Linked DNA regions of Homo sapiens: region 1 is linked to region 2. The links come from fine-mapping of genetic effects on gene expression. A gene starts in region 2. The other region holds a variant in brackets. All regions are shown on one strand. Distances are between the middles of the regions. Region 1 overlaps GEMIN5 (gem nuclear organelle associated protein 5). Region 2 holds the start of FAXDC2 (fatty acid hydroxylase domain containing 2).

Region 1 (15,630 bases), 41 kb before region 2:
TCTTCCCATTTGTCACACAGAATATTAAAGTGTTTTGGACTTGACGGATTTAGTAAAATTTGTAATTTTTACTGCTTCATTAAGGGCATTCTTCCTTTTTTTCCACTGTAAGAGCCACCGCCTTCCTTCTTAGATGCCAGGTTTCCCAATCACTGCTTTGGCACAATCAGTGCAAATGTCAACACATTTTTTTTTTTTTAATAAAAAAGCACATAACTGACTCTTAGCATTGTTACGAAAATAGTTTTAACCTCATGAACCCTCTGAAAGGTTCTTGAGGACCCCCTAGGAATCCACAGACCACAATTTAAGAACTGCTGATCTAAGTGAAGAAACGAATGCAGCATATGTTTCTAATTTGTCTATATAATGCAAGTGCAGTTTTTAAAGGAAGTTGGAACAATAAGACAACACAAAAGGGACAGTTTGTCCTGTCTTACAGCCCCTCCTAGGACCATACACAGAGGAGCCTTTTCAGATTGGCTAAAGGGTCTGTTCTTGCCTTTAGGGAAGCTATTGCGATTGCCAAGGCCCGGCTGCGCCCGGAGGACCCAGTCCTGAAGGACTTGTACCTCAGCTGGGGAACCGTCCTAGAAAGAGATGGCCACTATGCTGTAGCTGCCAAATGGTAAGCCTGAGGAGTGGAGGGATGCTTCCAACATAGGAGAGCTTCTGCCAGGAAGGGGAGGACAAGAATACAAGTAATAAGTTTAGAGGTGGAGGTAAAGCAGCAAGGAATTATTTAAAAGATATGTATATTCAACTTAGTTTCATAAGACTCATCAGGAACTACTTCCTGATTTATTTATATAAATCACTATAACTATTCAAGAAAAACCTCAGCAGCAGATTAAGAAATTATGCATTTTTCTAATGGTCTCTTATAACATCAAATAAAGGAACCTCAACCCATGCTGGATTGAACCCAACAGAGGAGTCATTCCCTCTCATTTTCCTTATGTCCTTAACCTATATGATATTGTTTCTCATACACTCTGCTGAGTTGTGTTGGCCTCAGCCTTCACAGGAACAACCGGGGCAGTGACATACCTGGGACCACAGGAAGGCACATGCAGCAAAGTAGATAGAAAGAAATGATTCCATCCTCTAGGAATGGGAATAAAAATCTGTTTGTGACATTTTCTTCACATTTTTATTCATATTATAGCTATTTAGGGGCCACTTGTGCTTATGATGCAGCCAAAGTTTTGGCCAAAAAGGGGGATGCGGCATCACTTAGAACGGCTGCAGAGTTGGCTGCCATCGTAGGAGAGGATGAGTTGTCTGCTTCCCTGGCTCTCAGATGTGCCCAAGAGCTGCTTCTGGCCAACAACTGGGTGGGAGCCCAGGAAGCCCTGCAGCTGCATGAAAGTCTACAGGTCAGTCTGTTATTTCATCTCCTAGTATACAAGAGGGAAGTGTCCCAAATCCTTTTCTAGTCAAATCCAAGTTAATAACCCAGTTGCACAAGCTGTGCCAATTTGGCAGGCCCAGCAAGCCCTGGCCATGCTATCCCACTGAAGTACTATGACTTGTTAGTTGCCGTATTCAGAGTAAGAGATAATATGGTCATTCACAGTAATTCCCATTGCTTATCTGTTTGTACAAAACACCTGTGAGCCGGGCACAGTGGCTCATGCCTGTAATCCCAGCACTTTGGGAGGCCGAGGCAGGCAGATCACTTGAGGTCAGGAGTTTGAGACAAGCCTGGACAACATGGTGAAACCCCGTTTCAACTAAAAATACAAAAATTAGCCGAGCGTGGTGGCACGCTTCTGTAATCCTAGCTTACTTGGGAGGCTGAGGCAGGAGAATCACTTGAACCCGGAAGGCGGAGGTTGCAGCGAGCCAAGATCCAGCCTGGGCAACATAGTGGGACTCTGTCTCAAAAAAAAAAAAAAAAACACAAAAAAAAACACCTTAGTCAGCCCAGGCCTTGGGTTGGCAGTCTAGGGTTTCTTCATTGATGTTATCAGCACTGTCTTCCTTGAAGAGAGAATGGTTGGCCTCTAACAGAAATCATGGAACTCTACCTGTAAATGCCCCTCTTAACTGTAAGCTATGGAAAAAAAACTGGGCCAGATGCAGCAGATCGCTTGAGATTAGGAGTTCAAGACCAGCCTGGCCAACATGGCGAAATCTTGTCTCTACTAAAAATAAAAAAATTAGCCAGGCATGGTGGCACACATCTGTAATTTGGCTACTTGAGAGGCTAAGGCAGGAGAATTGCTTGAACCCAGGAGGCAGAGGTTGCAATGAACCAAGATTGTGTCACTGCACTGCAGCCTACGTGACAGAGTGAGACTCTTCAGAAAAAAAAGAGAAAAGTGTGGGAAAATGGAAATCTCTTTATTTCTTAAATTTTTTTGTTCCCATCTGATTAAAAATCAGTAACATACCACTGCCTTTTTGACACATCAAAACAGATTAAAGCATTGGCACACTTACCTAGTTTCTGAAACATGTAAACATTTGATTCACTTTAGATAACTTTGTGAGATACTAACAAGAGGTTTTTTAAGTTCTTCATTCTCTAACAGAGTACAGGGCCTACAGATGGTTTTTAGCTGAATATTTAGAGCCCAAGGAACGTGGTACATGGGGAGGTAGCTTTCTAGGAACAGCAGAATAAAAATGGAGGTGAAAATAGGACACCCTAAAAGATAATGCCACTGGGCATTATTTATAAAATGACCAAGTCTAGAAAGATTTTAATTTATCCACCATCAAAAAAAGTTTCCAGAATGACTGTTTAGCATTTTATTTTTCTCTTAAACAGCATCCTTAACAAAGCAAAAAAACCTAATAAGCATATGCTAAATATTCTGATAAGGGCTATTTTGGTTTTGTGCAACAGAGACTCTTGCAAGCTTAACTGAGAAGATATTGTTATAGGAGTACACAAGGAATCTCATGGCAACTAAAAATCTAGTGAAAGTAGATTTTCTAGGCCTTCTCTGTGCTTCTGTTTTCTTCTCTCCCAGCCAGCTTCCTCTATTAAACCTATTTGGACATGGCTCCTAATGCCTGTCCCAGCTCTTGGATCTGCAAAGCTTGTCTATTCCAGCACCTTTGGCCCATTATGCTTTTATTCCTGAGTCCAAAGTTTGGTCAGGGAGAAAGAACCTGATGAGCCCAGCCCTTCTTTTCCTCAAACTAGGCTACAAGGCTTAAGTGGCTGGTCTGTGTGTGGCTTAAATCATTGTGGGTAGTGCTACAGTTGGGATTCTGTGTTATAAAAATGGTTTCTTGAGCTCTAAGGATAGATTTCCCCCAAAAGGGACCTGGGAAGTGTCTGTCAGATCGCCCCTTTTGTCTCTTTTCATGCATGACTCATATGGGGCAGGTAGCTCACTAATGTGCTTTGGTTGCTGCAGATACAAAGGGAAATACTTTGAAGGACACGGGAGAGCTCTCGAGATCATCCAGTGCTTTCCCTGTATAACAGTTCCTCTTCCTTGTTGTCGTGTTCCAGGGTCAGAGATTGGTGTTTTGCCTTCTGGAGCTACTGTCCAGGCATCTGGAGGAAAAGCAGCTTTCAGAGGGCAAAAGCTCCTCCTCTTACCACACTTGGAACACGGGCACCGAAGGGCCTTTCGTGGAGAGGGTGACTGCAGTGTGGAAGAGCATCTTCAGCCTTGACACCCCTGAGCAGTATCAGGAAGCCTTTCAGAAGCTGCAGAACATCAAGTACCCATCTGCTACAAATAACACACCTGCCAAACAGGTAAGCCATCTGTACCAGCATTTGACATTAATCACTCAGTGGTAAGACTTCCTTAATCCATGTCTATTGTAACGGGGAAACAAGCAGAATACTGGACTGTGTTTCAGAAAAGGCTAAGGCATGGCCACGCCACCTGGAAAGATCCCTTTAGACTAATCAAAGCCCTTTAACTTTAAAGTTAGTATTAGATCAGTATTCCCTTTTTTGTTTTGTTTTTTTTAGTTGTTTGAAGCTGGAGTGCAGTGGCATGATCTTGGCTCACTGCAGCCGCCACCTCCCAGATTCAAGTGATTCTCCCGCCTCAGACTCCTAAGAGCTGTGATTACAGGCGTGCGCCACCACGCCCAGCCACTATTTCCTTTTCTAAAAAAGTAAAATAAAAAGTCTAGAAAATATAGAAAAGCAGAATAATGTAATAACCCATCAACCAGAATTAACAGATGTTCACATTTTGTCATTTTTACTTTGTAGGGTTTTCTGGTTTCATTTTGTATTTTGATTTGAGGACTTTATAAAATAAAAACAGTAGGGCAAAGTTGAAGTCCTTCTTGTTCCTTTCCTCAGCCCTTCACTCCTTCCCTAGCTCGCCACAGGCACCTCCTGTGTCAGTGCCACATGTATTGTTTTGCTGTTTGCTTATTTCAGAGGCCATTGTTTGTAAAATCTATCCATGTTGATAAAAAGAGATCAGTTGATTTATTTTAACTGCTATGTCTGCCTTGTGAATATACCTACTTCTTTTTTTTTTTTTTTTTCCTTTCTGGAGACTGGGTCTCACTGTTACCCAGGCTGGTCTCGAATTCCTCAAGTGATCCTCCCGCCTCAGCCTCCCAAAGTACTGGGATTACAGGCATGAGCCACTGTGCCTGGCGTAGTTCTTTCCCTCATTTCAAAATGAGGGAACATTATGATATTTATGAGGAACAAGGCTTCTCAAATGGTATATACTTTGAAAAACAATTGGACAGTTTCTTTTTTTCTTTTCTTTTTTCCTTTTCTTTTCTTTCTTTTTGAGGCGGAATTTCACTCTTGTTGCTCAGGCTGGAGTACAGTGGCATGATATCTGCTCACTGCAACCTCCGCCTCCCAGGTTCAAGCAATTCTCCTGCCTCAGCCTTCCAAGTAGCTGGGATTACAGGCATGTGCCACCACGCCCAGCTAATATTTTTACTTTTTTTTTTTTTTTAGATGGAGTCTCACTCTGTCACCCGGGCTGGAGTACAGTGGCATGATCTTGGCTCACTGCAATCTCCGCCTCCCAGGTTCAAGCAATTCTCTTGCCTCAGCCTCCCGG[G/A]TAGCTGGGATTACAGGCACCTGCCACCATGCCCGGCTAATTTTTTGTATTTTTAGTAGAGACAGGGGTTTCACCATGTTGGCCAGGCTGGTCTCGAACTCCTGACCTCGTGATTTGCCCACTTCGGCCTCCCAAAGTGCTGGGATTATAGGCATGAGCCACTGCAGCCAGCCTATTTTTCAGATTTTTAGTAGAGACAGGGTTTCACCATGTTGGCCAGGCTGGTCTTGAACTTCTGACCTCATGTGATCCACCTGCCTCGGCCTCCCAAAGTGCTGTGATTACAAGTGTGAGCCATCACGCCTGGCCAGGCAGTTTCTTATAAAGTTAAACATGCACATGCCCCATGTCTCAGCAGTTCTGCTACCTAGATATTCCACTAAAACAATGAAATCAGATGGCCACACAAAGACTTGTACACAAATGTTTACAGCAGCTTAGTGCACAGTAGCCAAAAACTAGAAACAACCCAAATGTCCATCAACTGATGAATGGATATGCAAACTGTGTTGTGTCTATGCAGTGAAATACTATACTGTTTAACAATAAAAAGGGCCAGTCTTGGTGGCTCACACCTGTAATCCCAGCACTTTGGGAGGCCAACGCGGGTGGATCGCTTGAGCTCAGGAGTTTGAGACCAGCCTGGGCAACATGGCAAAAACCTGTCTCTAGTAAAAATACAAAAATTAGCCGGGTGTGGTAGCACAAGCCTGTAATCCCAGGTACTAGGGTGGCTAAGGCAGGAGAATCATTCAAATCTGGGAGACGGAGGCTGCAGTGAGCCAAGATGGAACCACTGCACTACAGCCTGGGTAAGAGAATGAGACCCTGTCTCAAAAAAAGAAAGTAAAAAGGAACAAATTACTGCCACACAAATAATATCGGTGTTAGCCGCGCGTGGTGGCGGGCTCCTGTAGTCCCAGCCACTCTGGAGGCTGAGGCAAGAGAATGGTGTGAACCCAGGAGGCCAAGCTTACAGTGAGCCGAGATCGTGCCACTGCACTCCAGCCTGGGCGACAGAGCAAGACTCCATCTCAAAAAAACAAAGAAGAAGAAGAAGAATATCGGTGAATCTCAAAAGCTTTAAAGACACAAAAGACTATATACTCTGTGGTTCCATTTATATGAATTCTAGAAAAGAAAAAATTAAAGTGACAACCAGTTCAGTGGTTGCCAGTGGGGTGGGGCCAGGAGATCGCCTGCAGAGGAGCCGGAGGGCATATCTTCAGTTGATGAAAATGTTCTGTCTTGATTTTGCTGGTAGTGTTGTAACTATATATGTTTCTCAAACTACATACTTAAAATTGAGCACATTTTTCTTAGTTGTACTCCAAGCTTTGTTTTGTTTTGTTTTTGGTGGGTTTTGATTTTTTTTTTTTGAGACAGCGTCTCACTCTGTCACCCAGGCTCGGGTGTAGTGGCTTACTGCAACCTCCGCCTCTCGGGTTCAAGCAATTCTTCCGCCTCAGCCTCCCAAGTAGCTGGGATTACAGGCGTGCACCACCAAGCCCGGCTAATTTTTTTTTTTTTTTTTTTTTTTTTAGAGACGGGCTTTCACCTCGGGTGATCCGCCCGCCTCAGCCTCCCAAAGTGATGGGGTTATAGGTGTGAGCAACTGCACCCAGCCTTTATTTTGTTTTTAATTACAGCTTTTAGTTCCAGAAACTCACTTTTTGTTTTTGTTGTTTGTTTGTTTGTTTTGAGAGGGAGTCTCACTCTCATGCTCAGACTGGAGTGCAGTGGCGCAATCTCAGCTCACCACAACCTCCACCTTCCGGGTTCAAGCAATTCTTCTGTCTCAGCCTCCCGAGTAGCTGGGACTACAGGCACGCGCCATCATGCCTGGCTAATTTTTGTGTTTTTAGTAGAGGCGGGGTTTCACCATGTTGGCCAGGCTGGTCTTGAACTCCTGACCTTGTGATCTGCCCACCTTGGCCTCCCAAAGTGCTGGGATTACAGGCATGAGCCACCGCGCCTGGCCCACTTTTTGTTTTAATTAAATGCAAATGTAAAGGTGTTTTCTCAGTGTGAACAGACTTTAACACCGGGACGTGTGTGTGCTGCTGTGCAACTAGACATGAGAGTTTCCGATGTGGGAAGCAAAAATGGGTGGCGGAGACAAGAGGAACTTTCAAAGTGTGAATTGTGTGTACTTGTTTCCAAATGCGGTTCACAGGAACAGTTTGGTGGCATCCTCTGCGCCTACCGTGGGAGGATGTTTAACTCAGACTCTGGCTTCTCTCTCCAGCTCCTGCTTCACATTTGCCATGACTTGACCCTGGCAGTGCTGAGCCAACAGATGGCCTCCTGGGACGAGGCTGTGCAGGCGCTCCTTCGGGCGGTGGTCCGGAGCTATGACTCAGGGAGCTTCACCATCATGCAGGAAGTGTACTCAGCCTTTCTCCCTGACGGTAAGTGACTTCCTGCTGCCTGAGGCACACCCTTTAATGGACAACATCACCACCATTAGTGGTGTGGCACTGGGAGTACCTAGATTCTTAAAAGATGGAGATTGGCCAGCTGTGTCATTTTAGTAGAAAGTTTGGATTCTCTTACCGAAGCTTTTAAGAACAACTATACTGTTTCCTTTACCTGGCCCTACCCTCTTACAGCCTCCTGTCCACTTTCCACAAAGTTTAAGGGAGAGAGAAATAGGAATGTAGTTACATGTTAGTAAGAACAGAAAAGAACAGCAAAAAAGATAGACATTCCTTGGGCTGCATAGTCAGTCACTGAACTAAATCATTGTGATTTTTCAGAGAGACAGTGTGATCTGTTGTCGTGGCCCCAGAGCCTTCAGTAGTACAAATGGAATACTCTATCATGCTTTGAATGACTCCTAGGATGTAGTAATGAGAACACTGTCGCAAGCCAGGAAATGTTTAGCCTCCAGTTGGCTCTTGGTGGAAAGGCATGTGGCCCGGTGGATCACACTGTTGTCCTTTTTCCTGGGGTCTGCTTCTTGGTTGATAAGAAATAGAACATAAGGGCAGGAAGCCACATTTCTGGCAACTAGAGAAATGCATGACCCAGTATCTTTTTCCTCTTTTCCTAGGCTGTGACCACCTAAGAGACAAGTTGGGGGACCATCAATCCCCTGCCACACCAGCTTTCAAAAGTTTGGAGGCCTTTTTTCTTTATGGGCGTCTGTATGAATTCTGGTGGTCTCTCTCCAGACCTTGCCCAAATTCCAGTGTCTGGGTAAGGGCTGGTCACAGAACACTCTCTGTTGAGCCAAGCCAGCAGTTAGACACTGCCAGCACTGAAGAAACGGACCCTGAAACTTCTCAGCCAGAGCCAAACAGGCCTTCAGAACTAGACTTGAGACTCACAGAAGAAGGTGAGCGAATGCTGAGTACTTTTAAGGAGCTCTTTTCAGAAAAGCATGCCAGTCTCCAAAACTCACAGAGAACTGTTGCTGAAGTCCAAGAGACCTTGGCAGAAATGATCCGACAACACCAAAAGAGTCAACTCTGTAAATCCACAGCAAATGGTCCTGATAAGAATGAACCGGAAGTAGAAGCAGAGCAGCCCCTCTGCAGTTCTCAGAGCCAGTGGTAAGTACTGAGGCAAGTACAAGACGGAATGAAAAATGACCCTGCTGGCTAGGAACAGTGGTTCATGCCTATAATCCCAGCACTTTGGGAGGCTGAAGCAGGAGGATCACTTGGCCCAGGAGTTCACCACCAGCCCGGGCAAAAAAGCGAGACCCTGTCTCTACAAAAAAAAAAAAAAAAAAAAAGCCCGGGCACAGTGGATCACGCTTGTAATCCCAGCACTTTGGGAGGCCGAGGTGGGCAGATCACTTGAAGTAAGGAGTTTGAGACCAGCCTGGCCAACATGGTGAAACCCCGTCTCTACTAAAAATTAGCTGGGTATGGTGGCACATGCCTGTAATTCCAGCTACTTGGGGGGCTGAGGCCAGAGAATCGTTTGAACCTGGGCAGCAGAGGTTGCAGTGAGTCAAAATCGCACCAGTGCACTCCAGCCTGGGCAACAGAGGGAGACTTCATCTCAAAAAATACAAATAAAGTAACCAGGTGTGGTGGCATGTACCCTGTAGCTACTTAGGAGGCTGAGGCAGGAGGATCACTTGAGGCCAGGAGCTCAAGTTCAGCCTGGGCTACATATTGAGACCCTGTCTCTAGAAAAATTAATTTTTTTAAATTAGCCAGTAGTGGTGGCATGCACTTGTAGTCCCAGCTACTCAGGAGGCTGAGGTGGGAGGATCACTTAAGCCCAGGAGTTCGAGGCTGTAGTGAGATACGATCATGCCACTCATACCAGCCTGGTTGACAGACCCTGTCTCTACAAAAAAAAAAAAAAAAAATTAAATTTTAAGAAGCCAGGTGACAAAGGAATTTTATTTATAAAATGAGATAAAAGTAACCCAGGCAGGGGCATATGCTCTCAGGGCCTCCTGAGGGCTGTGTCATAGGCAAAAGTTTAAATTTTTAAAAAATATTAAAAATAAAAGGTAAAAGCTACCCAGGCATAACAAAAGATAATCCAATTCAAGGATGGGCAAAGGACTTGAATAGACATTTCTCTAAAAAGCCAGTAAGCACAGGAAATGATGCTCAACATCTCATCATTGGGGAAATGCAAATCAAAACTACAGTGAAGCAGCACTTCATAGCCATTAGGCTACTATCAGAGAAACAGAACAAGTGTTGAGGAGGATGCAGAGACATTGGAACCCTTGTGCCTATTGGTGGGAATGTAAAATGATGCAGCCACTGTGGAAAACAGTACAGCAGCACTTCCTCCAGAAATGTAAAATAGAATGACCATAGGATCCAGCACTTCCACATCTGGGTATACACCCAAAAGAATTGAAAGCAGGGTCTGAAATATGTGCACACCTGTGTTCATGGCAGCATTATTCATAATACCCAAAACACGGGAGCAACCTAAGTATCCACTGACAGATGAATGGATAAGCAAAATGTGCCATATCCATACAATGGAATGTCATTCAGCCTTACGAAGGGAGGACATCATGCTGAGTGAAATAAGCCAGTCACAAAAAGACATATACTATATGACTCCACTTATATGAACTACTCAAAATAGTTAAATTTATAGAGACAGAAAGTAGAATAATGTTGACAGGGGCTAAGGGAAGCAGAATGAGAAGTTAATGTTTAATGGGTATAAGATTTCAGTTTTACAAAATGACAAGAGTTTTTGGAAATGGGTGGTGGGGATGTTTTTCACCACATTATGAATTTATTTAAAATCACTGAACTATGTATTTTTAAATGGCTAAGATGGTAAGCTTTATGTTATATACATTTTACCACAGTAAAATAACAATGGGAGAAAAATGTTACCCAGGGCAAGACATACAATTTACACCTTTTATTTTTTTCACTAGTAAAGAAGAAAAAAATGAGCCACTTTCTCTGCCTGAGTTAACCAAAAGGCTTACCGAGGCAAATCAGAGAATGGCGAAATTTCCTGAGAGCATTAAGGTAAGAGTTAAAGCAGTTCATTTGGTAAAGCATCACTTTTTGTGTTATCACTTGACTATACCACATTCTTATAAAGGTCAGCTACCTCTCTGTTCAGTTTCTAAAATCTCTACCCATTCATATGTGCTTAAGAATTTAGAATCCAGGCTGGGCGTGGTGGCTCACGCCTGTAATCCCAGCGCTTTGGGAGGCTGAGGCTGGCGGATCATGAGGTCAGGAGATCAAGACCATCCTGGCTAACATGGTGAAACCCCGTCTCTACTAAAAATACAAAATATTAGCCGGGCGTGGGGGCAGGTGCCTGTAGTCCCAGTTACTCGGGAGGCTGAGGCAGGAGAATAGCATGGAGGCAGGAGAATGGCGTGAACTCAGGAGGCGGAGCTTGCAGTGAGCCAAGATCACGCCACTGCACTCCAGCCTGGGCAACAGAGCGAGACTCTGTCTCAAAAAAAAAACAAAACAAAAAAAAAGAATTTAGAATCCAATTACTTTGGTTAGCTAGAATGTTTTGTGAGACTAGAATTATCGATCACACAAGTAATTTTATACCTCAATCTTCAGAGAAACCAAATAGATTTAATAGGTAAGAAGTAAAATTTAAATTGGTGCCATGTATTAGATAGCTTACAGATGGACAGGTCTTTTTGGCTGTGGGCCCAAATATTAATAGAAGCACCATTTTTAAGGGTGGATTTGCATAGGGCTGTAGAAAGAGATTGTGCCATTGAGAAGGACATCGCAGTAGCCATCCTAGTTTTGAGTGTCATTTCTCCTTGGAGTAACTGTTGAAGAGAAAGACAGGACATTGCCTTAGGAGACAGCTGGCTCAGCTGTGTCCAAGAAGTGTCTATAGATGAACCTGAGTGACTGGTGCCTTCTGTGCAGGTGTTTGTGGCTCTTCTGCAAATGCTTCCTTATTCATCCTCATGTCATCGTCTTTCAGGCCTGGCCCTTCCCAGATGTGCTGGAGTGCTGCCTCGTCCTGCTTCTCATCAGGTCCCACTTTCCTGGCTGTCTGGCCCAGGAAATGCAGCAGCAGGCCCAAGAGCTCCTTCAGAAATACGGCAACACGAAAACTTACAGAAGACACTGCCAGACCTTCTGTATGTGAATTTTCACACACCTTGAAGAAACTGCCAAATTGAAAATGTTTGACATCTTTCACCTCTGCAGTTATGCCTCACCAGACATTCACTCTGGTCCCTAGATGTTTTTGCAGTAATCCAAAAGAATACAAACAAGGATTAAGTTTGAATCAACCCTGCCTACCCATAGACAACGGTGGATCTGACTTTAGACTCAATTGTGGTCTCCTACTGGAGGGAAGATCATGAAAAGCCCACAGTAGTTATTCAGAACTAACACCTGCAGAGTGTTGGTCATCTCTACAGCCTTAGGCAGGTTTCACCCAAAGAGGAGAAACTTCTGTCGTCACCCAAAGTGTTACATGCTTAAAACACAAGCTACCTTTGTAAATACTTCATCTGATCAGAAGTGTGTCATGCTTGTTTGAGATGGAGTTGCTGCATTTTAGGACTATTGATACCTTTTTTTAATTGTTTTTATAATATTTAATTTGAAAGAGGAGACCCTTCTCTCTCTACTCTTTCATAGACTGAAGTTTGAATATGAAATAGGCCTTAACCATCATGTTGACTCTCCTGTCAGAATTTTAGGTTGGAAATTTGGTTTTATTCTTTCATGTAATTGCTTATTTGAACAGATCACTTACTAAAGCTTTAGAAGAAGTGATTCAAATGTGTGTTTTCCCTTCAGTTTTATAACAAATGGATTGATGGCAGTCAAATAGCTCAGGAATAAATTACTGTTTCAATGGTTCTTAAACTTTCTTGGATCATAGGATCCTTTTGAGAATCAGATTAAAGCCAAAGATACTCTTTGGAGAAAAATGCATATTCCTAATTTTGCATAGATGACCTTTGGATTATTGGACTCTGACTATTGGGACCCTAAATACTATTTAATTATAAATCTTTTTTTTCTCCTCCTTGGTTATTTAAACAGTTGAACAGTGTCAGGAACAGATGTTTCTGTAATGTCACAGTTGCTAGCATGGGAAAATCAGAGTCTGGCATGGGTGTAGGAAGGAACACTCCTTTCAGATAATTGAACTGTTTTCTCTAGGATTCATTGTGAAGGCTTTTCTGCTCACGTTTGTAGTTTATTTTTCAATTAATTCCTAGGATTGGAGCTGTTGGGACAGTGAGAATGAAATTCATTTACAGGAAGTCCCAGGAAGGAGAAAGTTTGAGGCAGTTTTCAAAGACGTGTATGTGCCTAGCATTAGAGTTTAATAAACTCACAAAGGGAAATACTGTAGAATTTAGATCCTCACAGTTCTTCATACAGTGAAGTGAACTTTAGGAAGACGATGCTTTGTTACCAGGGATGGAGAATCTTTCTTGATTGCAAAGACATAAATAGGCATGGCTAGGTAGAAAACCTAGCCTAGTTGGTAGGACACCAGTTCTACCAACTGCTAAAATGAACTTTACTTACAGAGGTGGAAAAAATATATACTCCCTTCCACTTGAGTAAAGAGTGATATTGTTAAACTAGAATTCTAAATTCCTTTGTGATCTGTCAGAAGCATCACCTGTGGGTGGAGGAGTCCTGCACACTCCTCAGTTACTGCTTTGGTAAGAACAAGATTATCTATTTGAGTCCAGGCATGGTAGCTCATGCTTGTAATCCCAACACTTTGGGAAACCAAGGCAAGTGAATCACTTGAGGACAGGAGTTTGAGACCAGCTGGGCAGTATATATGGAGGCAGTATATATTTGAGACCAACATTTGGCAGTATATATGGAGGGGCTGAATTGCACTCAGTTGCCTGGTGCTATGGTGCACGCCTGTACTCTGGATACTGTGGAGGTTGAGGTGGGAGGATTGCTTGAGGCCAGGAGTTCAGGGCCAGCCTGTGCAACATAGCAAGCTCCCATCTCTATAAGTAATGAATAAACTTTTTAAAATGAATTATGGCCAGGCACAGTGGCTCACACCTGTAATCCTAGCACTTTGGGAGGCCAAGGCAGGCGGATCACCTGAGGTCAGGAGTTCGAAACCAGCCTGGCCAATATGGAGAAAACCCATCTCTACTAAAAATACAAAAATTAGCTGGGCATGGTGGCACATGTCTGTAATCCCAGTGTTGGAAATAAGAGCTCAGAGTCACAAAGAAAATGAGCACTCAAACAAAAGACTTCTCAGCAAGGCAAATTTACGTCCGCAGAAGGGTGCTGCTGCCTGCACCAGTCACAATCACAAGAGCACACTGAACAAAGGAGAGAAAGGTTTTTATCCCTAATGCAGCTTCTGTTTCTGTATCCTTTTCCCATTGGCTGGAGTCGGACCACACAATTTAAGCTAACCTGATTGGCTAAAACTTGAAATTTTTCCAAATAGGGTAGACAGGGAAGAAGGGGTAGGAGTGGTAAAACTTTTCCAAATAGGGTAAACTGAAACCTTTAAACACGTAACTTGTAAAGAAAGGTTGGGAGGGAGGGATTGTCCATTAAGGCATATTTGGGCATGTTTAGGCACAGCAAAGATGGAAAGTCTTGTTTAGAGAACAAGAATTTATCCTTTCTAGCAATGTGAAAGGACATTAGTTGCTAAAAGGAACAAGGAAGTTTGAAGAGGAACTGATGGTTTGGCAAATTTCCCCCTCTTGACTTGGTAGTTCTTCCTCGTCAAGTCTCCTTAACATATCTTGACTTTATTGTTCCTCTTAGTCACTCAGGAATAGGAGCTTATCTGAGTAGGGTGGGGGAGAAGCAAGAGGGGTTTTGGTGAGAGCTTTTTCTATGAGTCTTTGCACTAATCCATGAATACAGGGTATAATGCAGCAACCTACAAGAATAAGTACACCTATAACAATTGCAAGGGGGGTAAAGATTGAGGTTATGAGTCCCTTCCATTTGCCAAACCATTTTTCCATGAGATTAGAGAAGGGGTCATTTACTCCAGAATTTTTGGCCAATTCATTTGCTAGGGCTTTTGTAATTGTTCCATCCGGGGCTGTGTTGTTGGGGATAAAAGTACACCATTAGACTCCAATCATGATATGGACCCCACCCTTCTCAGCTAATACCATGTCCAGGGCTATTCAATTTCCCAGGCCATTAGGCTGGTAGGGCCTAATTGTTCAGCTATTCCTTTAATGGAATCCCTAGTATAATTAGCAAACCATTGTTGATTATAGTTAATGTAATTTATCCAGTCTACATTTTTGTTTGCAGTTACCCATGAGAGCAATATAGATTCAAATCCTGCAGGTATTTGATTTTGGGTTTTAAACTCATTTGGCACCCCTCATGGAACTCCAATGGCATCTATATAAATGTGAGGGTCAAAGGACATGTAAGGGGGACTTCTCTTAACAATTGTTCTTTTTGTTTGGTTGGTGAAATGCCAGGGTGAAAGGGATGGCCAATTGGATTAGAGTGCAAGTGTCCCTCCAGTTACTTGGCAGAGTACCCAATAGTGGCCCACCACAATACCACCATAAATCCAGATGCTCAGGGATGAACAAGGGCAGACTTATTGGTTAGCTCCTGAAAAGGCTTGGACTCACTACATCCCATTAGGCTTCCAAGGAATGCCAAATTTTCCCCCTGTCGTGAGACACGTAAAATTTACATTGTTAATCGGAGGCCCTCGGGCTGACCTACAGGGCCTTTAACTTCCAGAAATAGCAGCGAGAGTTTAGCATGCCTTATTCCCCCGGGCTGTGGGGTTTTGGAAGAGAGCTACCATACAGCTCAAGCCCTGTTGGTTGGAGGTCCATCCGAGTGGAAAGGGAACAATTTGGGTTTCTGGCTTACCTGTTGCACAAGGGTAACAATCGCTTTTATTTAGGGTGTGAATGGAATATTTAATCCATTCCAGCCAGGCATTAACATCTTGATATCTGGTTTCTATGGCTAAGGTTTGCTTTAGGTCCATGACTTCTACTATGGCTATTTTTTTATTATTAGGTAAGAAACGAAAAATGGTTTGATTTGGTGGGCGTGGGGGAGGTGAGTTGGTAGGAGACGGAGAAGGGTTAACAAAACTTTTTTTGTTTTTATTTTTGTTTTGTTGTTGTTTGTTTGAGGCAGAGTCTCTG
Region 2 (15,630 bases):
AGCAAAGTTAAAATTACGGGCCTTAGGACTAAGATAACTAAGTTCGAAGCCAGGCCAGGCCACGTAGTAGTCGTGTGTCCTTGCATAAGCCACTTAATCTATTTCGTGCCTCGGTTTTCCTATCTTGTAAAATGGGTTTGATAACAGTACGCACCTCGGAGGATTGGAGTAGAAGTTAAAATGAAGCATATGAGATGCTTTGTAAAGTCCCCGCACATATTACTCGAATATTATCGTGTGACGGTGGCCATTATTATTACTACTCTTTGCTGGGGTTCCTCTCCTCCTCACACACCCTGCCCCTTACACACGCCCCCACTCCCCTTCCCCCTACAGACCCCCAATGGTCTCTCACACTCTTTCATCTTACGCTCCTCTTTCCGGTAAGCGCAGGCCCGCTTACCGGGACCGACAGGGCCCGCGAAGCGCTGGCTGGCGGGCTGACGAGCTGGCGGGCTGGCGGGCTGACTCCCCGACGGCGGCGACGGCAGCCCCTGGCCCGGAGCTCTTTTCCCTCTACCCCGGATCTGCTCCTAGAACCGAACGAGCCAGTGAGGTGAGCGCCCCCGTGCCCAGAGCGGTCTTACGTGCCTCCCACCAAACAACCGGACGGCACCACTCTACCCACCCGATCCGCCCGACTCGCCTGCTCTCTAGAGTCACTCCAGACGCGCGCGCGCGCCTGGTCACGCCCGCTCCTCCCCCTTTGCGCGCCCCTGCGACTCCGTGCGTGTTCGCTCTGCCTGTGAGGTCGCGGGAAGCAGCGCGCAGGAGCAGAAGTAACAGGGTGCCGCCGAATAGGTGGGGAGTGGAGGCCTGGAAGCACGCTTGCGGAAGACGGCCCGCCTGCGGCCCTCTTCGCGTGATTAGTTGCGCTCGCTCAATTTAATCATGATTCTTACTCCTCCATTTTGGTCCTCTTTCCGAGCGAACAAGGAAGGGGCGTGGTCTAGAACTAGCGCCCCCCCCCACCCCCCCGCCGTGGGCGCGGCCTGGAAAAATCCAAAGGCCGAGGAAAGGGCGTGGCCCTTCGAACAAACCCCTCGAATTACCACGCCCCCTCCTCCTGGCTTTGAAGGACCGTTAAAATCGTTGGCACGAAGGGATTTGTGAAGAGGCTGACGGAGAAAGAGGCTGTCGCGACTTTCTGTTCTAACATGGCCCCGTAGATGTCTCACAAAGCATCTATCCTACGGTTCCTTTCTGGCAAACAATTAGTTGGGGGTGGGGCGGCTCCCCAAAGCCGAATGTGGGTGACGTCCGCCAAGGCCCGCCTACCTCCCGGCCTCACCGAGCAGAGCGAGGAACATTGCCATAGCAACTGGCCCGCCAGGGTCTGCTCGAGTTACAAAGAGGACGGCGCCTCCCGTGGGCACGGCGCCTGGCCAGCGCAGGCGTCGCCGGGCTCTTCAGAGCTCCAAAATCTTTGCGGACGCGCAGGGAGCTCGCCAGATTTTAGTGTCGAGACCCACGGGCTCAGGCCTCGCCCAGGAGCTTCTGAGGCCCCTCTGCCAGCCCCTTGGTTCCCTCTTAATCCTGCTTGAAGAGAGGGCTCTTGACCGACGCCGGCCCTGGGCAGCGTGTGGCCAGCTGGGGCGCGCCTCCGCCTCGTGTTCTCCGCGGTGGGAGAGCAGACAAAGCGCCCGCTTCCTGCACACAGTGTCGGCGGCGGGCCGCCCTCAGCCACTCCCGCCAGCGCTCCACCCCTGTTCCCGAGAGGACGTGGGGGCTGCCCCAAGCACGGTTCTAGTTCTTGTCCCAGATGCTTGTACTTGAGAGGCTGTTGATAAGAAAACGGCAAATGTACCCCTAGTGACGAGGAGAGGGGCTTCTACTATTCACTTTGCACTTTTAAACATTTCCCCCTAAGGGGATTCTCCAAAATCCTCCAATTCCTAGGCTGGATGCCGAGCTGGCCTTGAGCGGCAATTTCAAACGGGATTCCCAAAAGCTGTTCTCCAGGGAGGTGAACTAGCTCCAGCCTCCAGGATAAGAGCATCAAATGCACTTTCTGAACTCCAGTCCTCCTCTTCTCCCCCCCAAATGAGTGTCTAGCTCCTTATCTGCAAAATTAGGTTACGAATGGCTGTCGTGAGCTTGTGAAGATTAAATAGTTAATAATTGGAAAAACACCCCGCACCGAGGAAGATATAAAAGAGCGTTCAATAAATGGCATGTCTCAGTTTGCTCTCCCTAAAACAGTCGATTTGGGGCCGGGATTGGTGGCTCACTGAGCCTGTAATCCCAGCACTTGGGGAGGCCAAGGCAGGCGGATCACCTGAGGTCAGGAGTTCAACACCAGCCTGGCCAACATGGCAAAACCCTGTCTCTACTAAATAATACAAAAATTAGCTGGGCGTGGTGGAGGGCACCTGTAATCCCAGCTACTCCGGAGGCTGAGGCAGGGAGAATTGCTTGAATCCAGGAGGCGGAGGTTACAGTGAGCCTAGATCGTGCCACTGCACTCCAGCCTGGGCGACACAGCAAGACTCCCTCTCAAAAAATAAAAAAATAAACAGTGATTCCGTTGAGGGATACACTGATAAAGAAGGCAGGCAAGTGCCCCATCCCCCAGTCAGTTCTATGGGTTTCTTTTTTTTTTTTTTTTTTTTTTTTTTTTGAGACTGAGTCTCGCTCTGTCACCCAGCCTGGAGTGCAGTGGCGCGATCTCGGCTCACTGCAAGCTCCGCCTCCCGGGTTCACGCCATTCTCCTGCCTCAGCCTCCCGAGCAGCTGGGACTACAGGCGCCCGCCACCATGCCCGGCTAATTTTTTTCTCTTTTTTTAGTAGAGACGGGGTTTCACCCTGTTAGCCAGGATGGTCTCGATCTCCTGACCTCGTGGTCCGCCTGCCTCGGCCTCCCAAAGTGCTGGGATTACAGACCTGAACCACCGCGCCGGGCCAGTTCTGTGGGTTTCTAACGTGCTTTCTTCCACTTGTAATTTAGAGTCAGAAGAGGCTAGCGCTGACAGGCAGGCAGTAGTCACATGAAAAGCGGCCTCCCCAATCCTTTCTTGGAATTTTGTTTTTTCCTGTGGCACTGGGCCTGGTGTGTGCTAAAACAAACAGGAAACACCATGTCCAGCCTCACTACCACCCCTCACCCAGAATTGGGTGTTCGTTTCTCAAATTATTGAAAATAGATATAAAGCAAACAGATGGATTTTATTTTAGGAGAAGTTAGAGTGTTACTCTTTTTTTTTTTTTTTTTTTTGAGACAGAGTCTCGCTCTGTCGCCCAGGCTGGAGTGCAGTGGCGCAATCTTGGCTCACTGCAAGCTCCGGCTCCCGAGTTCACGCCTTTCTCCTGCCTCAGCCTCCCTAGTACCTGGGACTACAGGCGCCAGCCATCACGCCTGGCTAATTTTTTGTATTTTCTTTTAGTAGAGAAAGGGTTTCAATGTGTTGGCCAGGATGTTCTCGATCTCCTGACCTCGTCATCCTCCCGCCTTGGCATCCCAAAGTGCTGGGATTACAGGCCTGAGCCACCGCACCCGGCCTAGAGTGTTAACGTTTTGAACATTGGATATGATGCTGTACTCATGGATATCGCAAAATTAGAATAATTTTCCAGAAGTCACTGCTTCCCAGTCGGAAGGAAGCCCCTAATGAATGAGAGGGTAGTTGGAAAAGAATATATTCAGTTACATCATTTCATATTTGAGAAGAAAACTCTATTGCTTTTTGAGATGAGGGTCTTGCCACGTTATCCAGGCTGGTCTTGAATCCCTGGGCACCCAGCCTCAAGTAATCCTCCTCACTCAGCCTCCTGAGTGCCTGGGATTACAGGTGCATGCCGCTGCTCCTGGCCCCTATTGTTTTTGAGCTGCAAACTATAGAAAGTCAGGTTCGAACAAATCTCATTTGGGAGGGTATACGTTTTTGTTTTTTGTTGTTGTTGTTGTTGTTATTTTTCATTTTTTTTGAGACGGAGTATCGCTCTTGTTGCCCAGGCTGGAGTGCAATATCGCGATCTCGGCTCACCGCAACCTCTGCCTCCTGGGTTCAAGCGATTCTCCTGCCTCAGCCTCCGAGTAGCTGGGATTACGGGCATGCACCACCACACCCGACTGATTTTGTATTTTTAATAGAGACAGTTTCTCCATGTTGGTCAGGCTGGTCTCGAACTGCTGACCTCAGGTGATCTGCCCGCCTTGGCCTCCCAAAGTGCTGGGATTACAGGCCTGAGCCACCACGCCCAGCAGGAGAGTATAAGTTTAAGAAAATTGAGAAGGCCAGGCGCGGTGGCTCACGCCTGTAATCCCAGCACTTTGGGAGGCCAAGGCGGGCAGATCACGAGGTCAGAAGATCGAGACCATGCTGGCCAACATGGTGAAACCCCTGGATTAGCTGGGTGTGGTGGCACACGCCTGTAATCCCAGCTACTCGGGAGGCCGAGGCAGGAGAATTGCTTGAACCCGGGAGGTAGAGGTTGCAGTAAGCCAAGATCACGCCACCGCACTCCAACCTGGCGACAGAGAGAGACTCCATCTCAAAAAAATTAATAAATAAACAAAATTGAGAAACACTCGTTATAAAATGAATGGGACCCCTTAAGAACCACACAGCTGGCTGGGCGTGGTGGCTCACGCCTGTAATCCCAGCACTTTGGGAGGCCGAGGAAGGTGGATCACCTGAGGTCAGGAGTTCAAAACCACCCTGGCCAACAAGGTGAAACCCCGTCTTTACTAAAAATACAAAAATTAGCCGGGCATGATGGCAGGTGCCTGTAATCCTAGCTACTAAGGAGGCTGAGGCAAGACAGTCGCTTGAACCTGGGAGGTGGAGTTTGCAATGGACCAAGATCATGCCATTGCACTCCAGCCTGGGCAACAGAGCCAGACTCCATTTCAAACAAAAAAAAAGAAAAAAAGATAGGATGGAGAGAAAACCCAGGAAGGCTGGAGAGCTTCTCACTAGACAGATGCTCTTCTCTATAAGGCTTGCTCAGCAATCAACTATTTACTGAAGACCAGTGTTATTAGTGCCAGAGTTATTACTGCCATGGAAATACATAAAGACCCTATATGAAATGATTGTAGGAAAAAAAGTACCTGCTACTCCAGGGAGTGTTGACCACTTAAACTACAAAAGTTCAAGAAGAAAAGAATTAGGCCGGGCACAATGGCTCACACCTGTAATCTTAGCACTTTGGGAGGCTAAAGCACTTTGGGAGGCTGAGGCAGGAGGATCACTTGAGGCCAAGATTTTGGGACAAGGTTGGACAACATAGCAACACCCCATCTCTTAAAAAAAAAGAGAGAGAGAGAGAGAGAAAAGAACTGGAGGCACAATACTTGACAGGAACAGGAAGGAAATTCCAGGTGAGAGGATTAGCGTAAGCAAAGATATGGACATGGAGACAATAGGAAATAGGAAAAAAAGTTTCTGTACATCATAGTAAGTGAACAATAAATGTTTGCACATGACAGTGATGCTTGGCATTAGAAAGTAGGAAGGAGGCCAGGCACAGTGAATCATACCTGTAATCCAACAATTTGGGAGACTGAGGCAGGAGGATTGCTTGAGTCAGGAGTTCAAGACCAGCCTGGGCAACATAGCCAGACTCTGTCTCTCCAAAAATGTTTTTTTTTAATTAGTGGGGCATGGTGGTGTGTGCCTGTAGTCCAACTGCTTGGGAGGCTGAGGTGGGAGGATCACTTGAGGCCAGAAGGTTGAGACTGCAGTGAGCCATAGTTGAGCCACTGCACTCCAGCCTGGGTGACAGAGTGAAACCCTGTGTCTAAAGAAATTTTTTTTTTTTTTTTGAGGTGGAGTCTCGCCCTGTCGGTCGCCCAGGCTGGAGTGCAGTGGCGCAATCTCGGCTCACTGCAACCTCTGCCTCCTGGGTTCAAGCGATTCTCCTGCCTCAGCCTCCTGAGTAGCTGGGACTACAGGCGCCCGCCACCACGCCTGGCTAATTTTTGTACTTTTAGTAGAGACGGGTTTCACCGTGTTAGCCAGGATGGTCTCGATCTCCTGACCTCGTGATCCACCCGCCTCGGCCTCTCAAAGTGCTAGGATTACAGGCGTGAGCCACTGCGCCCGGCCAAGAAATTTTTAAAAATAGGCCAGGTGCAGTGGTTCATGCCTGTAACCTCAGAACTCTCACCTGAGGTCAGAGTTTGAGACCAGCCTGGCCAACATGGTGAAACCCTGAGTCTTCTAAAAATACAAAAAAAAAAAAAAAAAAAAAAAATTAGCCAGGCGTGGTAGCAGGCGCCTGTTGTAGTCCAAGCCACTCTGGAGGCTGAGGCAGGAGAATCGCTTAGAGGCAGGAGAATCGCTTAAACCCAGGAGGCGGAGGTTGCAGTGAGCCGAGATTGTGCTACTACACTCTAGCCTGGGCAACAGAATGAGACTCCATCTCAAAAATAAAAATAAAAAAATTAAAAAATAGAAAGTAGGAGGGAATAGGAAATAATATCATCTGAGAGGAGCCAAACTAAAGTGAGTCTTGGAAGTCTGGTAGCACAGGTTTGTTCAGTGCACAAGATAGACTTGGTCAGCTGGAAAATATAGACATTCTGCAATATCTGGAATATTGAAAAAAATTAGTATCTCTGAAAGGAGAGATGAGGAAAAACATGAACAAGTTGTACAAAATGTAATTAATTTGTGAGCAAGCATTGAATGTTTACTGAGCCCTTGCTTTGTGCAACGAATTAGGCAAGGAAAATGAGGAAGACATGGTCCTTTATTGGCCAAATAAAGTATGACACATCTATACAATGGGACGGGAGGCAGCCATTAAACAGAACATGGCAGCTCTTAAGGGTACTATATGGAGCAGTCTCCATGTTTTGTTGTTGACAGTTTTATTTATTTTAGAGACAGGGCCTCATTATGTTGCCCAGGCTGGTCTCTAACTCCTGGGCTTAAGAAATTCTCCTGCCAGGCCAGGCACGGTGGTGGCTCATGCCTGTAATCCCAGCACTTTGGGAGGCTGAGGTGGGCAGATTATGAGGTCAGGAGTTTAAGACCAGCCTGGCCAATATGGTGAAACCTCATCTCTACTAAAAAAAAAAAATACAAAAATTAGCCGGGCCTGGCAGCGCACACCTGTAGTCCCAGCTACTCGGGAGGCTGAGGCAGAAGAATCGCTTGAACCCAGGAGGCGGAGGTTGCAGTTAGCTGTGATCATGCCATTGCACTCCAGCCTGGGTGACAGAGCAAGACTCCATCTCAAAAAATAAAAAAAAGAAATCCTCCTGCCTCAGCCTTCCAAAGATTGCTGAGATTACAGGCATGAGCCACTGCACCCGGCATTTTTTATTTTGTTTTGTTTTTTAGAGACAGGGTCCCACTCTGTCACTCAGGTTGGAGTGCAGGGCACAATCATAGCTCACTGCAGCCTCCAACTCCTGGGCTCAAGCCATCCTCCCACCTCAGCCTCCCCAGTAGCTGGGATAACAGACATGTGCCAGTAAGCTCTACTAATTTTTTGTATATGTAGTAGAAATGGGGTTTTGCTACATTGCCCAGGCTGGTCTTGAACTCCTGGCCTCAAGTGATCCTCCCGTCTTGGTCTTCCAAAGTGCTGAGATTATACATGTGAGCCGCCGTGCCCAGCCAAGTTTCTGAGTTTTGTTTATTTTAGAAAGGAGTCTTCCTGTGCTGCCCAGGCTGGTCTCAAATACCTGGGCTCAAGTGATCCTCCAACCTCAGCCTCCCAAATAGTTGGGACTACAGGTGAGCACCACCATGCCTAGCCAATCTCCATGTTTGATTGTTAAGTGGAAAAAGCAAGGTGCACAACAAACATACTATGGTGCTGTTGCTAAAGGAGAAGCACAAGGCCTACACATGTTTCTATTTACAGAGGTAAGCTCTGGAAGGATATACAAAAATCTGGTCACAGAGGTTGTCTCTTGGGAGGAAAAAAAGGGGACTGAGGAGAAATTAAAAAAAGACTTTTCATTGTACATTCTTTTGACCCTATTGTATTTTATATCATTTGCACATTTGCTTATTTAAAAAGTTTTCAGAAATTTAAAAGCAGCTCTTTTTCCAAAGTGCTCCTCACTTCATGTCATGGGTCCTGTATCCTAAGTTCCCCTATTTCAATCACAGTGCAAATTTACCCTCCACAGGCATGCCTTTCCTGCATCTAGACTCACTAGAAATAGCTGATGCATCTCTCCTCCCTTGCCTGCCCTCCACAGGAAAAGAAGCAATGAAAAAAAAGAAAATGAGATCCTCTGGTCTCTGTCACCTTTTTATCAACTTGTACTACCTGCCATTATCTGACACCCACATCTTTTCTTGAATCTGCCTCCTCCTATGGGACAGCGACATTTTCTTAAGTTGCAGATGATGGAGAAAATTTTTTAAAAGAAAAAAAGGGGGCAGGGGGAGGGAAGCCCAGAGTTTGGCCAAATGCACGTTTTTCAAGTTCCTGCTTGAGCTTAGATTCCCTTTCCGCTTTAAGGACATGCCCTCTGGAAAGAAGGGTGTTTTGTTTCCAGCCCACACAGACCCAAACTTTTTTCATCACGTGCCTGGTCCGAGCCAGTACGCAGCTCTGTAATGAGATCACCATGGCCAGCCTCCCACCCGAGCAAAAACAAGGTTAGCCTGCAGCAGAGCCGCAGCAGCAACAGCCACCAAAGCGGGGGCTGAAAGGGAAGAGAACTTAGATTTGACCTGTGCAAGGACCTCAGCAGCTTGGACACAGCCCACTGCAGAGGTAAGTGGGAACTACGGGGGAGGGGTGGTGTTTGCAAAGGTCAGGACATGTCCAGGTTCACTTAAAGTAAGGGCAAAACAACACTCTTCCCACCTCTGCCACCACCCTGTCCTCTCTACTTATGGCAGGGTTAGATTTGCCTCTAAACAGGGTTAGATGGCAGGGTTAGAATTTGTCCTAGGACATTGCTGTAGTGCAGTCGCCTCCTTGTCTCTTACTAATGTCTGTATCCTCTGCCTGTGTTTGTACCATCTACCTCCTCAGTAGTCTAATTTTTCTAGCAATTGACAGGTGATTGTAATGGACAAGTAATTGTTTGACTTTAAAACCATTTGTAAAGGAGCAACTCCTAATTCAGAACTCAAATGAGAGGCAGAACAAACTGGAAGAGACTGTTGGGAAGCAACTGCTGCCTAATTGCTTCTCATCTCTACTCTGCCATCACCAGGAAGGTATGGGGCAAAATACAACAGTTTTAAAGTCTCTGGATAGATGTGTGGGCTATGAGCTAGACAAGTAGGTTGAAACTGTTTTGATGCAACATACTTGGATTTACCAACAGTGGCTCCAGTTGTGAAATCGTTAGTGGCTTGATAGTACCTATGGAAACACTCCACGAAGGTTATTGAGTAAAGGGCATACAGTAAAGTGTGTAGGTGGAGATGAACAATAGAACAGTGGCTTTCAGGACCTTCTGGGGCTTAAGGCAAGCAAGACAAGATGCTGATTTGTGGGTTGCTTCAGTTTCATGTGCAATTCCAATTAAATTTCTTTGAGTGGGATATACAGATTCAATTCAATTTGCTAAAACACAGATGCACTGAGCATCAGCTTCTAACTTTAGTTACGAAAGTAATTAGCACAAGGGAATGGTGCTAAAATGTTCCATAGCAAATGTTGAACACTTTTTGAGGGCAAAAAGCAATGCTTTTGATTCGTGTATCTCTTATTTATTCGGCAAATCTTTCTTGAGTATCTTCTACATGCCAGGCTTGGGCTTGATTCTGTGGATCTCGTGGTAAACAAGACAGGCAGATTCTCGGCCTCATGGACATGCAATCAAGCAGAACAGTAAGCTCAAAGGGTGCAAGTACCATGCAGCAAAAGGAGTGAAGAGAGTATTACTAAAACTGGCCCATGGGAATCATTTTTAACCTTTCCTTTCATGCATTTCATCTTCTGTTTTTGTTTTTTTTGTTTTTTGAGATGGAATCTCGTTCTGTCACCCAGGCTGGAGTACAGTGGCGCGATTTCAGCTCACTGCAACCTCCACCTCCTGGGTTCAAGAGATTCTCCTGCCTCAGCCCCCCAAGTAGCTGGGATTACAGGTGCCCGCCACCACACCCAGCTAATTTTCGTATTTTTAGTAGAGATGGGGTTTCACCATGTTGGCCAGGCTGGTCTCCAACTCCTGACCTCAGGTGATCTACCCACCTCGGCCTCCCAAAGTTATGAGATTACAGGCATAAGCCAACGTGCCCAGCCGCATTTCATCTTTGTTTTTTTTTGTTTTTTTGAGACAGACTCTTGCTCTGGCGCCCAGGCTGGAGTGCAGTGGCATGATCTTGGCTCACTGCAACCTCCGCCTCCCAGGTTCAAGCGATTCTCCTGTCTCAGCCTCCAGAGCAGCTGGGATTACAGGCGTGCACCACCACACCCGGCTAATTTTTATATTTTTAGTAGAGACGGAGTTTCGCCATGTTGGCCAGGCTGGTCTCAAACTCCTGACCTCAGGTGATCTGCCCACCTCGGCCTCCCAAAGTGCTGGGATTACAGATGCGAGCCACCGCTCCTGGCCGCATTTCATCTTCTTAAATGAATATCGGCCACTCTATCTTCTATATAAGCCTCAGATTAGTACAGATGTTGAGTCATAGCAGCTCCTCAAAACCCTCTTCACCAGAGGCTTTAAACTGTGTAATTACATTACAGGTCAGTCTCCTCAGCCCTGGAGGTCGACTGCTCAGCTTTTTCCTAGCATACAGTCTGAGAGCAGAGGCTGAAGTAAGGGGAGTTCTAATCTTTGGGTCAGTTGCCCTCTCCCTGTGTCATTTCTTATGAAATAGAAGTTATGCTATTCCCAAAATACATACAGCACTAGGCAAAGTGTTAAGAAGCCTAGATTTTGCCAGAAACCATGTGGAGTTTGGAGCAAGTCATTTCTACTAACTAGGGCTTCCTCCTTAGCTTATAAAATGGAAGGGGTAGACCAGATGAACATGAGGTCTTTTTTCTCCCCCCTCTAAGAGTAAATTGTCTCAACAATTTTACAAGTTGTTTACAAAACAATACACATTCACATAAAGGTGATGTATTTATATCTATAAAATAGGAACATTCAGTAGGCCGGGCATGGTGGCTCACGCCTGTAATCCCAGCACATTGGGAGGCCGAGGCGGGCGGATCACAAGGTCAGAAGATCAAGACCATCCTGGCTAACATGGTGAAACCCTGTCTCTACTAAAAATACAAAAAATTAGCCAGGCGTGGTGGCAGGCACCTGTGGTCCCAGCTACTCGGGAGGCTGAGGCAGGAGAATGGCATGAACCCGGGAGATGGAGCTTGCAGTGAGCCAAGATCGCGCCACTGCACTCCAGCCTGGGTGACAGAGCAAGACTCTGTCTCAAAAAAAAAAGGAACATTCATCAATCATGCAGAATATCCAGGAAACAAGAATATGAAAGAAAATCTGGGCCAGGCGCAGTGGCTCATGCCTGTAATTCCAGCACTTTGGGAGGCCAAGGTGGGTGTATCACCTGAGGTCAGGAGTTCAAGACCAGCCTGGCCAACATGGTGAAACCCCGTCTCTACTAAAAATAAAAAAATTAGCCAGGCATGGTGGGGGTGGGTGCCTGTAATCCCAGCTACTTAGGAGGCTGAGGCAGGAGAATCGCTTGAACCCGGGAGGCAGAGGCTGCAGTGAGCCAAGGTCATGCCATTGCACTCCAGCCTGCGCAACATGAGCGAGACTCCATCTCAAAAAAAAAAAAAAAAAGAAAGAAAGAAAGAAAAAAGAAAATCTGAAAGAGTTGGGCTGTAGACAAATAAAATTCAAGATTAAACCGTCTGTATTCCTTCCAGCCTCACCTTATTCCCATGTCCTTTACTCAGATTCTTGAAGTTGTAAACATTAGCTATAGCTTCACTGTGTCATTTATCTAGATTGGGGATTCTTTAATAAAAAGCCTGCATACTGAGAATCATCTGCTTTCAACAAAACCACATAGGCAGGGCAGAGTGGCTCATGCCTGGAATCCCAGCACTTTGGGAGACCAAGATCACTTAAGCCCAGGAGTCCAAGACCAGCTTGGGCAACATAGGGAGACCCCATGTTTACAAAAATTTTTTAAAAATTCGCCGGCATGGTGGCACAGACCTGTAGTCCCAGTTACTCAGGGGACTGAGGTGGGAGGATCACCTGAGCATAGAAGATTGAGGCTGCAGTGAGCTATGATTGAGCCATTGTACTTCAGTCTCGGCAACAGAGCAAGATGCTATCTCTAAAAAATAAAAATAAATAAAATCCTTGGTTCACACTAAAAAAAAAACAAACAAAAAACCAGAACCACACTAAAAAGTATCTAATTTGCTACTAGGGAGGCTGAGGCAGGAGGATCACCTGACCCCAGGAAGTCGAGGCTGCAGTGAATCATGATTGGGTCATTGCACTCCAGCCTGGACAGAGTGAAACTCTGTCTCAAAATAAATAAATAAATAAAATTTGGATAAACTCACAATAGAATATCAAATTCACTTTAAGGAAGTATCCATTCATTGTTGTAAAATATTAGAACCTTCGGCCAGGCATGGTGGCTCATGCCTGTAATCCTAACACTTTGGGAGGCTGAGGTGGGAACATCACTTGAGCCCAGGAGTTTGAGACCAGCCTGGGCAAAATAGTGAGACCCCATCTCTAAAAATTAAAAAAATAAATGTTTAAAAAATATTTACTTTTAGTACACTTCATTTCTTTCTGTCCTCTGAATGCATTCCATTCTAAAATAAGTATGCTATTATCCTCCTACTTTCTCTGGAAAATCAAAGTTATACGATGTTATAAAATAGGGCAAAAAGCATGTCTTATTCATCTTTCTATCCCATGTCTAGCATTGTCTCTGGCATCTGATAAATGTTTCTTGAAAGAATGATTAGTATTTTAGAGAAAACGTGTCCTTTGGTATTAACACACACACACACACACACACACACACACTATCTAGTTCACTATTCATGGCTAATATAGGCCAATCTCATGCTTTTGTGTCCCTTTCAATCCCTGACACTCACCCTGTGCTCTTCAACATCAATGTATTCTATACTTTTGTAGTCTCAGTTGGTATAATGAGCACTGAATTCAAGTTCTGCCACTAATATGTGTCCAGGCTGGGCGTGGTGGCTCACGCTTGTAATCCCAGCACTTTGGGAGGCCGAGGCAGGCAGATGATGAGGTCAGGAGATCGAGACCATCCTGGCCAACATGGTGAAACCCCGTCTCTACTAAAAAAAAATATATATATATATATACAAAAATTAGCTGGGTGTGGTGACGCATGCCTGTAATCCCAGCTACTCAGGAGGCTGAAGCAGGAGAATCGCTTGAACCCGGGAGGCAGAGGTTGCAGTGAGCCGAGATCACGCCACTGCACTCCAGCCTGGCAACAGAGTAAGATTCCATCTAAAAAAAAAAAAAAAATAGGTGTCCAACTTGAAGCCAAATACTAAATACCTCTGCACCTCTGTTTCTTCAGTTGGAAAATGGGGGCATCTGAATAGATGAGCTCTAATACAACTTCCAGTTTGTTTTTTTTTGTTTGCTTGTTTTTTGTTTTGTTTTTTGAGAGTCTTCCTCTGTGGCCCAGGCTGCAGCATGAGCCACCACACCTGGCTAATTTTTTTTATATTAATACTTTGTGGATATAGGGCCTGTGTTTCCCAGGCTGACTCAAGCAATCCTCCCGCTTCAGCCTCTCAAAGTGCTGGGATGATAGGCATGAGACACCATGCCCAGTCCAACTTCCAGTTCTTAAGACGGCACACTCCAAAAGGAAGAAAAAAAGAATTAGTCAAGTCACAGAAAGTAATGACTATGGTACTTCAGTGTATTAGTAAATGTTGTTGCTAGTTTTATTTGCCAAAATTTCTAACTTGAACACTATCATTAGCAAACAATGTTAAGGAGCTTCTTTGGGTGAAGACCCACTGCCTACCATGTTTGAGGTCTCCCCTAGAACCTTTCTGACTGACCATGTTCATGTAAAACTGAAAACATGTCTGCAGGCGGGCAGAGAGGCACAGAAAGCAAGCTGCTTTGGCATAACATATTCAGCAGAACAATACAATTGGAGGACTCAGTACCTAGATAAGTATCTCTGGAAATTGCATATGGCCATATTGGCGTAACTAAAGAATAAATGACATGTCAGGAAATGCTTTGTTTGTTCTAATGAAATGAGATGTCAACAGATAAATGCTGCTGCTCTTACAGCCGAGAAGCCTTCTCACCACCAGAAAGTAAGCAATCATTTTCCCTTTGGCCAGAAGGTGTACGTAGAGCAGAGGAGTCCAGTGTCAAACATACTTATCAGCCCCTAATCACTCAGTCTCAGCAATACGCAGTTTCCATAACATGGACACAGTGGGCATGATCAGCACTCTGCCCTGTAGAGTGAACCAGAGCTGTCTTCTTCCAGAGCCAAGATCTTATTGTACTGACAGTCATCCTAGTTCCTCTTGGTTTTTGTTTTTAATTTCAATATCTGATTCTGTTTATTTATACTTTATACCCAGCCTATATGTCAAAAGGGTTTGAGGTAGTTTCCAATAAAAGGATATATAGAACAGCTTCAAATAAATAAAAACTGATAAGAAACCATCAGACAATAACCTAAATCATTTTGGTGGGGAAGGTGTGATTTGTAGAGAAAATAAACAGGTGCTTTAAAAAGAGGGAAAAATGGATTGTCCAATTTTCTTTGCACACCATAAGAAAGCATACCACTTCTTCCAGAGAGGCAAAACTTCTGTGCACTTATTTCTGTTTTGGTCTTTATCTGACTCAGTCTCTATATGTACTTGTTTCTTTTTCTTTTTTTTTTTTTTTGGAGGCAGGGTCTTGCTCTGTCATCCAGGCAGGAGTGCAGTGGTGCAATCACAGCTCATTGCAACCTCCACCTCCCCAGCTCAAGTGATCGTCCCACCTAATCTTTTTAATTTTTTGTAGGGACAGGGTCTCACTATGTTTTCCAGGCTGGTCTTTTTTTTTTTTGAGACAGAGTCTCACTCTGTTGCCTAGGCTGGAGTGCAGTGGCGCAATCTCGACTCACTACAGACTCCACCTCCTGGGTTCAAGCAATTTTCCTGTCTCAGCCTCCTGGTAGCTGGGATTACAGGCACCCGCCACCATGCCCAGCTAATTTTTGTATTTTTAGTAGAGGTAGGGTTTTGCCATGTTGGCCAGGCTGGTCTTGAACTCCTGACCTCAAACGATCCACCCACCTCAGCCTCCCAAAGTGCTGGGATTACAGGCATGAGCCACTGCACCCGACCCAAGACTGGTCTTGAACTCCTGGGCTTAAGCAATCCTCCTGCCTCAGCCTCCCAAAGTGCTGGGATTATAGGCATGAGCCACTGTGCCTGGCCAAACTTATTTCTTTATTGGAATCATCATCTATATCCTCATAAAAAGTATACTGCTTCTTCTTAACTAAATAATGGAGTAAGGAATGTCTTCAATGGCTATTTTGGTATTCATGTGGCAGACTGTTAAATATTTTTTTCTCTTCTATCTATCTTGTTTAACTATGGTCTGACTAAAAACAGCATTCTTTGGATAAGCTAAAATGCAGTCTGGGAAGAAAGTTCAGTTTTGAAGTTGGAGACCATGTATCCAAGAGCATGAAGAAAGCCTGGACATTGTCTTCCTATAGAGATTTCTTGGTGTA

The links. PIP is the estimated chance that this variant, and not a neighbour inherited with it, causes the effect.
Region 1: its variant is the best candidate, but not a certain one, in a credible set for the expression of FAXDC2 in whole blood (INTERVAL, PIP 0.75).

The regions. Positions count from the first base shown.
Region 1 is chr5:154,884,189-154,899,818 of GRCh38, reverse strand. GEMIN5 (gem nuclear organelle associated protein 5) reads left to right here. Exons shown (of 28, transcript NM_015465.5): 22 at 509-628; 23 at 1,169-1,379; 24 at 3,476-3,727; 25 at 7,270-7,432; 26 at 8,077-8,578; 27 at 10,402-10,498; 28 at 11,442-12,408. The coding sequence ends at 11,609. Among named protein-coding and RNA genes, the nearest start is that of CNOT8, 33 kb to the right of the region's middle. The variant G/A (reference allele first, on the strand shown) is at 5,022.
Region 2 is chr5:154,843,542-154,859,171 of GRCh38, reverse strand. FAXDC2 (fatty acid hydroxylase domain containing 2) reads left to right here and starts at 8,569. Exons shown (of 9, transcript NM_032385.5): 1 at 8,569-8,689. It overlaps CNOT8 (CCR4-NOT transcription complex subunit 8), which reads right to left and starts at 545. Exons shown (of 7, transcript NM_001301073.2): 1 at 404-545. RefSeq lists silencers at 281-340, 401-500 and enhancers at 243-745, 701-870, 746-1,249, 1,250-1,751.